3 linked regions of the Homo sapiens genome follow. The protein of the gene in region 1 purifies or fractionates together with the protein of each later gene. This does not show direct contact. Each region holds a gene or a part of one and is shown on either strand. Other genes may lie near its edges.

The links.
Region 2: the proteins of BMP1 (region 1) and POGLUT2 purify together in Homo sapiens (affinity purification with mass spectrometry; 2 studies listed by BioGRID and IntAct, with this or other methods). This does not show direct contact.
Region 3: the proteins of BMP1 (region 1) and RMND5A purify together in Homo sapiens (affinity purification with mass spectrometry; 2 studies listed by BioGRID and IntAct, with this or other methods). This does not show direct contact.

The regions. Positions count from the first base shown.
Region 1 is NC_000008.11:22,189,362-22,193,107, forward strand, and holds part of BMP1 (bone morphogenetic protein 1 isoform 3 precursor), read left to right. Parts: exon of another isoform or gene 1-58; intron 59-1,724; exon of another isoform or gene 1,725-2,234; intron 2,235-2,687; coding exon 2,688-2,790; intron 2,791-3,746. UniProt on the Homo sapiens protein: Metalloprotease that plays key roles in regulating the formation of the extracellular matrix (ECM) via processing of various precursor proteins into mature functional enzymes or structural proteins.
Region 2 is NC_000013.11:102,797,264-102,801,009, reverse strand, and holds the start of POGLUT2 (protein O-glucosyltransferase 2 isoform 1 precursor), read left to right. Parts: upstream 1-2,033; 5' UTR 2,034-2,339; coding exon 2,340-2,521; intron 2,522-3,746. UniProt on the Homo sapiens protein: Protein glucosyltransferase that catalyzes the transfer of glucose from UDP-glucose to a serine residue within the consensus sequence peptide C-X-N-T-X-G-S-F-X-C. Can also catalyze the transfer of xylose from UDP-xylose but less efficiently.
Region 3 is NC_000002.12:86,718,154-86,721,899, forward strand, and holds the start of RMND5A (E3 ubiquitin-protein transferase RMND5A), read left to right. Parts: upstream 1-2,137; 5' UTR 2,138-2,514; coding exon 2,515-2,656; intron 2,657-2,828; exon of another isoform or gene 2,829-2,969; intron 2,970-3,746.

The sequences.
Region 1 (3,746 bases):
TAGAATACTATCGTCTTGATTTCTCTCAATTTAATTATTCAGTTGCCCCCTGAGGTCTCTATTGATGGAGATACACACACACACACACACACACACACACATATCTTATATATTATATAATATATAATATAAATAATAAAACCAAATTTCCATTCAGTGAGCCAGTGCAATCCCGGCTCACTGAAGCCTCAGCCTCCTAGGCTCTGGGGATCCTCCCACTTCAGCCTTCCTGGTAGCTGGAACTACAGACACATGCCACCATAGCTGGCTAATTTTTTAATTTTTCTAGAGATGGGGGTCTCACTGTGTTGCCCAGGCTGGTCTCAAACTCCTGGACTCAAGCGATCCTCTTGCCTCAGCCTCTCAAAATGCTCAGTTACAGGTATGAGCTACCATGCCTGGTCCACATTTGGTAATGAGATGCCATCTACTCCCTCGCAAGAGCTAGAATGGACTTGCATCTTCAGAGTTTCAAAATGCCAGGACTTATAATAGTAACAATAACTTTTGATGATGATAATAATAACCAAGAGTAATATATAGTGTGCTTTTCTTTATTTTATTTTATATTTTTTTCGAGACAGAGTCTTCCTCTGTCACCCAGGCTGGAGTGCAGTGGCATGATCTAGGCTCACTGCAACCTCTGCCTCCCAGGTTCAAGCGATTCTCCTGCCTCAGCCTCCTGAGTAGCTAGGATTACAGATGCCCACCATCACACCTGGCTAATTTTTTTTTGTATTTTTAGTAGAGATGAGGTTTCACCATGTTGGCCAGGCTGGTCTTGAACGCCTGACCTCAAGTGATCCACCTGCCTTGGCCTCCCAATGTGTTGGGATTACAGGAGTGAACTACCGCGCTTGGCCTGTAGTGTGCTTTTCAAAAACATGATCTTACTCAATTATATCACAGAATACCACAATTAATAAAAGGTCCCCCAAATAAATATAGTTAAACTCATATATGAATTTTTAAAAAGAATAGAAGAAAAAGGATGGGCTGTGGAGCTAAGCTGGGTAAGGAGAGAGAGTAGATGGGGGTGACCGGCAGTGGCATTGCCCTGGGTGCAGTGGGTTGAAAGTCGCAGTGATGAGAACTGACGGAAAGGCTGGAAACTGAATGGAGAGTGGGGCCCTTGAAACTGAGATTATGGAGGGGCAGACAATTTTCGATGAAGCCGGCCTGCACGGCGTGACGTGTTGGTGTGTGGCCGGGAAGGTATAGAGAGGTGGAGAGAGGAGGTCGCAGAACTGAGCGGCCAAGAAGTGGGAAGGGTCCTCTAGGCGGACATTGGAATCACCAGGTATTCTGATAGGGCCCGTGTCAGAGTGACCAGGAGCCAGGAGCTCCTCCCCGACTAGCATTGATGCTGGCTACAGACAGCCACTGCCAGTGCCCACCTTGGAATCTTTTTCATCCTGGCCTCCACTCTGCCTCTAACTCTCTAAGAAGGTACAAGGGAGGCAGACGGTCCCCTTCTCTAGCAGAGAACCCAGCTCTCCCAGAGCAGGACACCCCTGAAACCATCGAGTGTCCGCTGCACTGGCCTCGCAGGTCACGGTGAACACATCCCTGGAATCCCTACTTGTTGGAACTCTGAATACACAGCAGGCTTTGGGCCCACTCTGGGACCTACCGAGGAAGTGGTTTCCCCCCGGAAGTGGAGGGAAGCCATTAAACTCTCTACCTGTTAAAATGCCCACCTGCTAAGGAGGATTGGTACTTACCAAGATGTAACATTCCTCCAGTAGCGAGCGAGCGTTTCCTGAGCTTGGAGCCTGAAATGAGGTGCTCAGGACAGACAGTGCCTGTGCCTTGGAAGTGTGATGTCAGGGTAGGGACTCTTCTCCCCATTGCACGCAGGACATAGCAGAGGCTCAGAGGTTGCGTGGTTTGCTTGATGACTCACAGCAGGAAATGCAGAGTGGAGATTCACACCCAGGCTGTTGTGACTGGGGTCTGAGCTTTCTCACGCGTATGTCTCATCCCTCCCTAAGCCTGGAGCTTCTTGAGGACAGGGACGGATTCAGATCTGGTGTCCTTTCAGCAGTTAGTGTGTCCCCCTGCCCAGAATCAGTACTCAATAAATGATGATGGGGCCGGGCACAGTGACGCACTCCTGTAATCCCAGCACTTTGGGAGGCTCAGATCGGAGGATGGCTTAAGCCTGGGAGGTGGAGGCTGCAGTGAGCTGTGATTGTACCATTGCACTCCAGCCTGGGTGACAAAGCAAGACCCTGACTCAAAACAAACAAACAAACAAAAAAGTGATGATTGGCGACTCAGCCCTTCTTTCCTCTTGCCTCTCCTCTTGGGACCCTTCGTCGCTACTTCAGACCCTCCAGTACCCTCACGCGGCCCTTGGCCCTTCCTACCACTGTAGAGACCAGTTCCTCTTGAAGATATTGTGGGTTGTGTTATCTAATTGACTATGAAGAGAGCTGGAGCCAGGGGTTCTACCCAAAGTGACGTCTCCTTCCCCTCCTGGGCCTTCTAGGAAGAAAGCTGACCATACACAGACAACTGTGGAGGAGGGGCGGTTCTGTGCCAGGAGCTCCTTTTGGGAGCCCCTTAACTCTCGCCCAGGGGGACCTGCCTCGCGTAAGGCGGGCGGTGGTCATCATGGGGCTGGCAGAGGGCTGGTGCAATGTTCGGGACAGCTTAACCCTCTTCCTCCCCTGTTGCCCTAGATCATCCTGAACTTCACGTCCCTGGACCTGTACCGCAGCCGCCTGTGCTGGTACGACTATGTGGAGGTCCGAGATGGCTTCTGGAGGAAGGCGCCCCTCCGAGGTAACGGCACCAGCCACCCCCTGCCCCCTCCATGCTGATTCCCTCTCTGAGCCACCCTCATCACACTCTTCATCCCCCTCCAGGGCCCAACACTGGCCAGGGATGACAACCTGGTATGGGAGCCAGGAGTCCTGGCATCATTAGTCCCAGATAGCTGCATTACTCACTTGCTGCGAGACTTCAGGCAAGTCCTGTCCTCAATCTGGACTTCAGAGTACCCAGTCCAGACTTCTGGGCCTCCCTGTGAAGTTGGCTGTCACCCTACGGGTGCAAGGAGTCATCAGAATTGACTGAGAGAGACAGACAGGCTGTTCTGCGCATCCCCATGGCCCCAGGCTCTCTTCCTCATCTGGGCACTTTCAGAGGATCCACTATTTTTTTCTATCTGCCCTTCTGGTTTTTGAGTGCCCACAGTGCAGCCTGGCTCAAAAGAGAGTCATCATAACCTGCCAGCCCATCTCCTAACTCACTGCCGAGGGCTGCACACTGGGCGCCGTGGCCCGACCTTGTCTGCATAGGATACTTTGTCCCGAGGAGGGTAGGGGGCAGGAGGTGAGTCAGTGGGAGTAAGTGGGTCAGAAGCACAGAACAGAAGGTGCTTTAATGAACCTAGAATTAGGGCAAAGGGAGGCAGGTGATCCTAGAGGGTATTGCAGCAAGCCCGAGGAGCCGTGTGAATCTCCTCCTAGCTGGACGTGATCGTAAGGAGCTCAGGACCACTCTTTGGCAACAGAACCTCTTCTCCTCAGCCTATGCCTAAAACAGCCAGACGGATATTGCTAACCTCTATTTTCCCCCCAGTTTCCGATATTTAAATATTTCTTTTTGGTCACTCAAAGCAGCTGTCCTTACAACACTTCCTCTCGTAGACGTGTTAGTGTTTTTCCAAGATGGGAGTTTCTTTTTCATAACTTACATTCCTGGGCCAGCACCCTCTGTCCCTTGCTGAATGTTGG
Region 2 (3,746 bases), on another chromosome or scaffold:
GTTATATTTTGTCTGTATTCTCAAGTATCAAGTTTATGAGAGAACCAAACATCTCTAAAAACCTCTTCAGTAAAGCCTTTTCGTATAACAAAATACCCTGATCGATATCCTGTATAGAAGGCAACTGAGGAGCAGGGGCATTCCGGTGACCTCGTAAGGGTCGAATATGCGCGGGAGGGCGAAACCAGAGGCGCATAGCCCCCGGCCGAGCTAATGCCACCCTTCCCACCCGGTGTCCTCCCGCGCCCTCCAGGCCCCTTCCTCCCCTTCAGACCTGCGGGTCCCCAGAGCCGAGGCGCCAGCCTGTCAAAAGATACCGGGAGTCCTCCGCGCCTGGCGCCAGCCTCCAGCCCGCGCCCCTGGGGAGGCCGGGAGCGTTTCCACCACCGTCCTCTGACAAGCTCGCCGCTCGGCCGGGCTCCGAGGCCGCCGGGACGGAGTAGACAGTCGCGCAGGCCAAGCCCCGCCGCGCAGAACCAGTGCGCGCGGAGGCGACGCGGGCAGAGAGGAAGGAGCGCGGCTGCGCTCCCTGCCCGTGGCCAACCCAGCCCGCGCCTCCGCGCGTGTCGCGGGCACCCCGAGTCCCCAGCCCGCAGAGCCCAAGGGCCGCCGAGGCCTCCTCGCCCCTACTCCCTCCTCTACCTTCCCTCACCGGCCGGAAGACGAGGCTCTCCGCCAGGGGGAGCGCGCCGAGGCCCGGGGGTGACCGCCTCGAACATGCTTGCCCCGGGCCCCGGGGACGCTGTTGGTGTTAAAGGGGGCCCACGGGCAATTGCTGCATCCGGGCTAAGAGCTGGGGCTCCGATTCGACTGTTTGAGTAAACGAGTCGGTATCATTAATAATGACAATTGCACAAAAGAAAATAGGAAAGAAACCCCCTTTCCTGGCGCCGAACCAGGCCCGCCTTGGCTCGGAGCCACCGGCTCTTCTGGGTTTTCGGGGCAGCTGGCAAGAGGGAGGCAGGCAGAGGAGGCGGCTCCGGGTCCGACTGCCAAGCTGACCAGGGCGGTGAGCCCGTGACTCCTGGCGGCGGCCCAGACCCGGGTGCTGGCGTGCAGGGGAAGGCGACGGCCGCTGCGCGCTGGTTCCCGGACCCTGCCCAGCGTGGCGTGGAGACCGACGGCCGCACAGGGGTCACCGGTATCCACATGGACACCTCCTAATCGAGCTTTGTTCACCAGAGGGCTAGGCCCTTCTTTCCCTGGCGCTTCTCTTCCCCCCGCGACACAGCTCTTCCCCCTACTCCTTCCCGGGAGAGCGCGCACCCATGCAGTGGCCTCCATCTGGACGCCACGGGGCTCGGAGAGGCGATGACCCCTGGCAGCCCAGGCCGGTATCGAATTAAGTAAAAATTTTGAATGCCCAGGTGGCTGCGCGTAGAGCGGCAGCAGGCCGGGCTGGCGGCGCCCAGGTGCCCAGCGGAGGGCCAGGCGCTCAGAGCGCACAGCCGGCCGCCACCTCGGCCCCTGCCCCCCGCCCCGGGGTACCTCTGGCCTGTCGGGTGGGGTCGGGTCGCTGCGGCCGCGGCGGAACCCGGCTCCGGACCTGGATCACAGCATCCAGCGCGCGGCCGGCGAGGCGCCTCCTGTTACCCTGGGGCCGGCGTCCCTCGTCCCATCGGAGCGAGCGAGGATGCTGCGGTGCCCGGCGACAGGTCGTCGGATAGCATTGACAGCACCTTCCTTTCAAGGTGCTTTATGCCTGCCCTCTCCACGTGCGGAGGGCAGGGTGACCAACGCAAAAACCTGAGCTGCGCCTCCAGACCCGTGCGCCCCTTTGATGGGCATCTGTGGTGTTTATCTGTCCCCCGAAAGCGGTGACCGAGAAGTAAATAAATGGGCGAGAGGTGGTAAAATCCTGGCAGTATTTCCGCTCGTCCTGTCGCGAACTACATATCCCAGGGAGCCCGGGGCGCCGGGACGCGTGTCCACCCCGCCATCCACTTGGAGAAGGCGTTACTGAGCCTGGCCCGACGCACGGGCCAATCCCCTCGCCCTACACCTTGGCTGGAACCTGAGACGGATTCGCTCCCAAATGATGCTCCAGTGGCAGGAGCAACTCAAGTTCATCATTGTCCTGAGAGAGAGGAGCAGCGCGGTTCTCGGCCGGGACAGCAGAACGCCAGGGGACCCTCACCTGGGCGCGCCGGGGCACGGGCTTTGATTGTCCTGGGGTCGCGGAGACCCGCGCGCCTGCCCTGCACGCCGGGCGGCAACCTTTGCAGTCGCGTTGGCTGCTGCGATCGGCCGGCGGGTCCCTGCCGAAGGCTCGGCTGCTTCTGTCCACCTCTTACACTTCTTCATTTATCGGTGGATCATTTCGAGAGTCCGTCTTGTAAATGTTTGGCACTTTGCTACTTTATTGCTTCTTTCTGGCGACAGTTCCAGCACTCGCCGAGACCGGCGGAGAAAGGCAGCTGAGCCCGGAGAAGAGCGAAATATGGGGACCCGGGCTAAAAGCAGACGTCGTCCTTCCCGCCCGCTATTTCTATATTCAGGCAGTGGATACATCAGGGAATAAGTAAGTCGAGAAACGGCTCCTTACCTATTTTGGATGGCGGTTAAATCTGTTTCTCCCTTTAAGATTTTTCTTTCCAAGAACTCGTTTCTCCACAGCAGTTTATATTCCAGGATATTTGGTTACCCATTTTTCTCTGTAGCTGTAGAAATTGTTCCGAATTATAATATATGCAATATAATGTATTGTATATAACATATAAAATAATCTCCTAGCAATTTTGATTCAGATTCCCACATTATCAGGGCAAGACAAAGTCCCTCCACTTTGCTGGAAATACTGTTTCTAACTACTTTTCGCATAAGCTATTATAAGGGATTTAAACCTAGTTGTTAGAGACTTGATGGGCTTCATCTTTCTCTGGTGCGGCCCTCAATTTTCAAGGAGACATCTGCAGGTAAGCATGTTTTGAAACTGAAAAAGAAAAATGAAGTACTATTTGAAACTTCAGAGTTCGGAAGGAAAGTATCGAAGTATTAATCTCCTATATGATTGTAACAAATATTTTGTTCCAATGAATTTAATACTTTAACATCATACTTAAAACTTATTTTTATAATTCCTATACTTCTGAAATGATTGTCTCTATTATTGGTGGATGCTGACTGTGTGTATTTCATACAGAAAAAAATACTGGAATAAAAGGTTGTCAAGTAAAAGGCAGGTTGTAAATTTTGTTATTTGGCAAAAGATGATACACTACCTACTACTTTGCTTTTGCCCATGGCTGAGCGTGAGTTTTTTTTTTTTAAGACAGGGTTTCACTTCCTAGCCTAGTCTGGAGTGCAGTGGTGCAATCACAGCTCACTGTACCCTCAACCTCCCAGGCTGAAGCTATCCTCCCACCTCAGCCTCCCTAGTAGTTGGGACTACAGGCGTGTGCCACCTCGCCTGGCTATTTGTTTTTTATTATTATTATTATTATTTGTAGAGACAGGATCTCACCTTGTTGCCCAGGCTGATCTCGAACTCCTGGCCTCAAGCAGTCTTCCCTCCTTGGCCTCCCAAGATGTTGAGATAGTAGGCATGGGCCACAGTGCCAGGCCTGAGCGTGATTTATAATACTGATATTGTAAAGATTCATTGGCAGAGATTTTTCAAAATAAGATCATTATCTTTGGGAGCATCATTTGATCACAAATATCCAGATGTGATAGCATGAAATAAGTTAGTAAGAATATTTTTCCATATGGAATGCATGAGTATGTTCTGTGCTTATATAGATTAA
Region 3 (3,746 bases), on another chromosome or scaffold:
TCAGTGGATTATCATGGCTCTTACCTTGTGCCAGGCATTTTGTTGAGTGCCTTAAATGGAATATTTCATACTATAACAACCCTTTGAAGGAGAAGAAAAAAAAAAGACTGAGAAAAGGGTGACTGAGCTTATCAAGGAGATCCTTGAAGAAAAGGGAGGAATAAACATAGATTTGTCTAGGCAGTTTGGCAGTGAAAGAAATGAGTGCTTGAGGAGGGTTAAATTAAGTTTCCTCCCCCAGGTAGGTCAAACCCATTTGGGCTGAAAGTAGAAAGGAAGAACCTACTGCAGAGAAAGAGGGGGAAGATCTGGACAGGGGTGAGAGGCAGCCCGCAGGCCCCAACGGCTGTCTTGGAAAGGGAGAAGGGACTCCTGGTCCTTTGGGTACATGAGAATGTTCACAAAATGGGTGGTACACAGCAATACTTGGAGAAGAGTGATAGAAGTTGCTGGAGCTAGATTTTTTTTTTTTTTTTAATCTCAGTGAAGAATCAGAGACATCTGCCAAGAGGGAAGAAAAATGGGGTGGGGAGAAGGGAGATCTGAAATAATACCAGTTGGGGCTGCCCTAATAATGACTACTACCACCTTTATCATGTGGTTATCATGAGCCTATTATGGGTATTTACATATATTCTCCTTTATCTAACAATTTAGTTAAGTATTAATTCCAATTATTTCTCAGTTATACGGAAGTTAAGGCTCAAAAACGTTATCACGTTAATTTAAGAAAAAGAATTGCCTACCACCTCACGCCAGGGGCTGTTCTAGGCAAAAAATTTAGACAAGCAGGGGGCCTGCCGTCATGGTTTTATGTAAGTGGTGCAGACAGAAAAATAAAACATCAGATCATTTCAGAGTTTAAGTGGTGTGGAAATAATAAAATGTGTTATGGTATTAACGGTGGGGAGGAAGTACATTAGTGTGGTCAGCCAGGGGAGGACCCTGTAAGGGGACAAGTGAGCTGAGAAGAACTTCAGGATGAAAAAGGTAGGAGGAAGAGTTTTCTGGGCCAAGGAAAGGGCAAGTGCAGAGGCCCTGAGGCACGAACTAGCTGGGCTCCTGAAGAAATGCAAAGGTAGTGCAGCCGATGCTGATCAAGGAGGTCTAGGCCAAGGCTGCAGACGCCATAGCAAGCGATGGGAAGGATTTACCCGAGGGGGTAAAGCCGATCCGATCCGATAGCATAAGGCTTCCTAGGGAGCAAGGGCCAGGCTGCCCGGCTCTCCAGCGCGTGTTCTTTCCACCCGGCTAAGCTGCCCGGCACATGGCTCTGGGGCGAGGCCACCGTCAGGAGAGGTTCCAGGCCAAGGGGCCAAAGGGCCACGGTCCGCGGGGGATGGGGACATGACCTCCTGGGTGTCGCAAGCCCGGGGCAGCGCTGACAGCCGGCGCGGGCCTTTCGCGAGCAGCAAGCGGCTCCCCTCACCCGGGCCCAATCACCCCCGCCTTTAATTCCCATTAGGGACCCCCCGCCGACGCAGAACCAGCCCCCGGGCGGCCTGGCTTGGTTTTTCATTCCCGGGAGATGGATCCGTCGCCCAAAAGTTCGGAATGACGGTACCCCTTTCCCTTAAGATCGATGAGGAGACGAAATAAATTGGGATCAGGGCGACGTCCTATGGAAAACAGCCTTTTGTATTTTTGTCTAGTTTTCCCCCAAGGCTTTCCATAAACTACTCGTTTCTCGGTACGCTCTCCAAGTCACCCCCTCCAACAGCGAGCCCGTTGGTTTGGCCCCTCAGCCCGGATTGGCTGAAGGCTTACGCCTCGGCCAGGGATTGGCTTCTTACCACTCCCCGCGCCCATTGGTTGGGGTTCCCCGCTTCTGGGCGGAGTGGTGAGGGCCGGTTTCCGCCTCCTTGTTTATGGAGCGCGTAGTTGTTGCGCTCTCCGAGCGCTGGGGCTGTCTCCAAAGTTCCCTATTTAGCTCCTCAGGCCAATTGGGGCCTCGCTCCACCCTCGCCCTCTCCCTCGCACGCCTTCCGTGTGGTACGGCCCACACCATTAGAGTGGCGGCGCGTGTGGGCGCCCGTCGCGTTCCTCCGCCCGTTCTCGCCGGGTCGCACCCCCCACCCCGAGGGTGTACTTGGTACGGCCCGCGCCGCCTCCTTTCCTCGCCCGGGTGGCCATCCCCCTCCCCCCAGTCGGCGGCGCTTGGTGCCGCCCGGGAGAACCAGGTCATCGGTCGGTTCCCGTGAAAACAAAAACAATCGGCCGCGCCGTCGCAGGCACCCGAACGTCGCGAGCGGGGCCTGGGGACGCGGAGCCGAGTGCAGCGAGCGAACGGGAGCAGCGGCGACTCGCCGGGGGGCTAGGGCGCCATGGGGCAGGCGGGCTCCGGCTGCGCGGGGCTCCCCCGGCGCCGCGGCTAGTGCGCCCGCCGCCTCGGCCGCCTCAGCCTCCCGCGCCGCCCGCTTGGGGAACGAGGAGCAGGACGCGGCCTCGGTGGGGCCCGGGCCGAACGGCTGCGGACACCTGGGCGCCGAGGAGCCGAGCGCCGCCGCCTCCGGCATGGATCAGTGCGTGACGGTGGAGCGCGAGCTGGAGAAGGTGCTGCACAAGTTCTCAGGCTACGGGCAGCTGTGCGAGCGCGGCCTGGAGGAGCTCATCGACTACACCGGCGGCCTCAAGCACGAGATCCTGCAGAGCCACGGTAGGGCGGCCCGCGTGGGCGCGCGGGGCATGGCCCACTGCCCGAGCCCCGGTCCCGGCCCCGCGGCGGGAATCCCTCACCCACCCTCGCGCCTCTGGCCCGGCCCTTGCCTCCCCTGAGGCGCGGAGGCCCCCAGACCCCTGAGACTTTTTCCCCTCTTCGTCCGATTTACCTCGAACCTGCCGCGACCTCGCTGCCAATTCAGAAGGAGCGCGAACCACCCGGAAACCCAGCCGGGAGCGGCGGGCTCCAGTCCGGATAAACGTGGGTGAGGGGGCCGCCCATCGCACCTGCAAACTGCCGACCCCCGAGTGGGCGCCCCTCGTCCCCCGCTCCCAGCCGGCCCCGGGAGTCTCACGTGGTGCCCGCGGCGCTGTTCTGTGGGCGGTGACTGAATCGCCTGGGACCCCAGGTTCTGAGTGATGAGGGCAGTGCAGGAAGCTCCGTTTCCCCTCTGTGCCGCCCCGAATCCTTGGCCAGGGGACTTCGTTTCTTCGTTTTATTTTGGAAAGTCGAGCGTTATTCTTAGCTGTGGGTTAACAACAGCCGCTCCTGCAACTTCATGATTTGGCTGCTGTGTGGACGCAGCTCTTAACTCCGCAGCGGCTCTGACATGGTTCCTTGGAAACCAGCTCAATTCAACCCTTCTGTTCTCCCAGTGTACCTTCTGATGACACCGAGGAGGAACGGGCGACATTTGCCCAAGTAAATTGTGCACATGTTGCTAGTTACTTGCTTTGCCTGGTTAAGTTCGTTCAAAAAAAATAAATTTTCCTATAGAAGGTGTTTCACCTAGATTGTTTTTTTTTTTACTGCCCCAAGCCCTGAGGACAGGTACTTTTAAAGGTTTGGTTTTCTTACACTTTAGAAGTCACAGCGATGATTCCTTTTGATCAAGAAGTGAAGGACTTATTTAATGGGTCTTTAATAAGAGGCTGAGGGGGCTTTTCAGCTTGTGGGCTGAACAGAAATTTATGTGAAGGACGGTTTGGTAGCTGGGGGAAGATGCAGATTATTTGTGGCAGGTGAGATGAGGGCAGTGGCGTTAGCTGAGTGTCTCTCTCCTTCTCCTTCATTTTTTCACACTTTC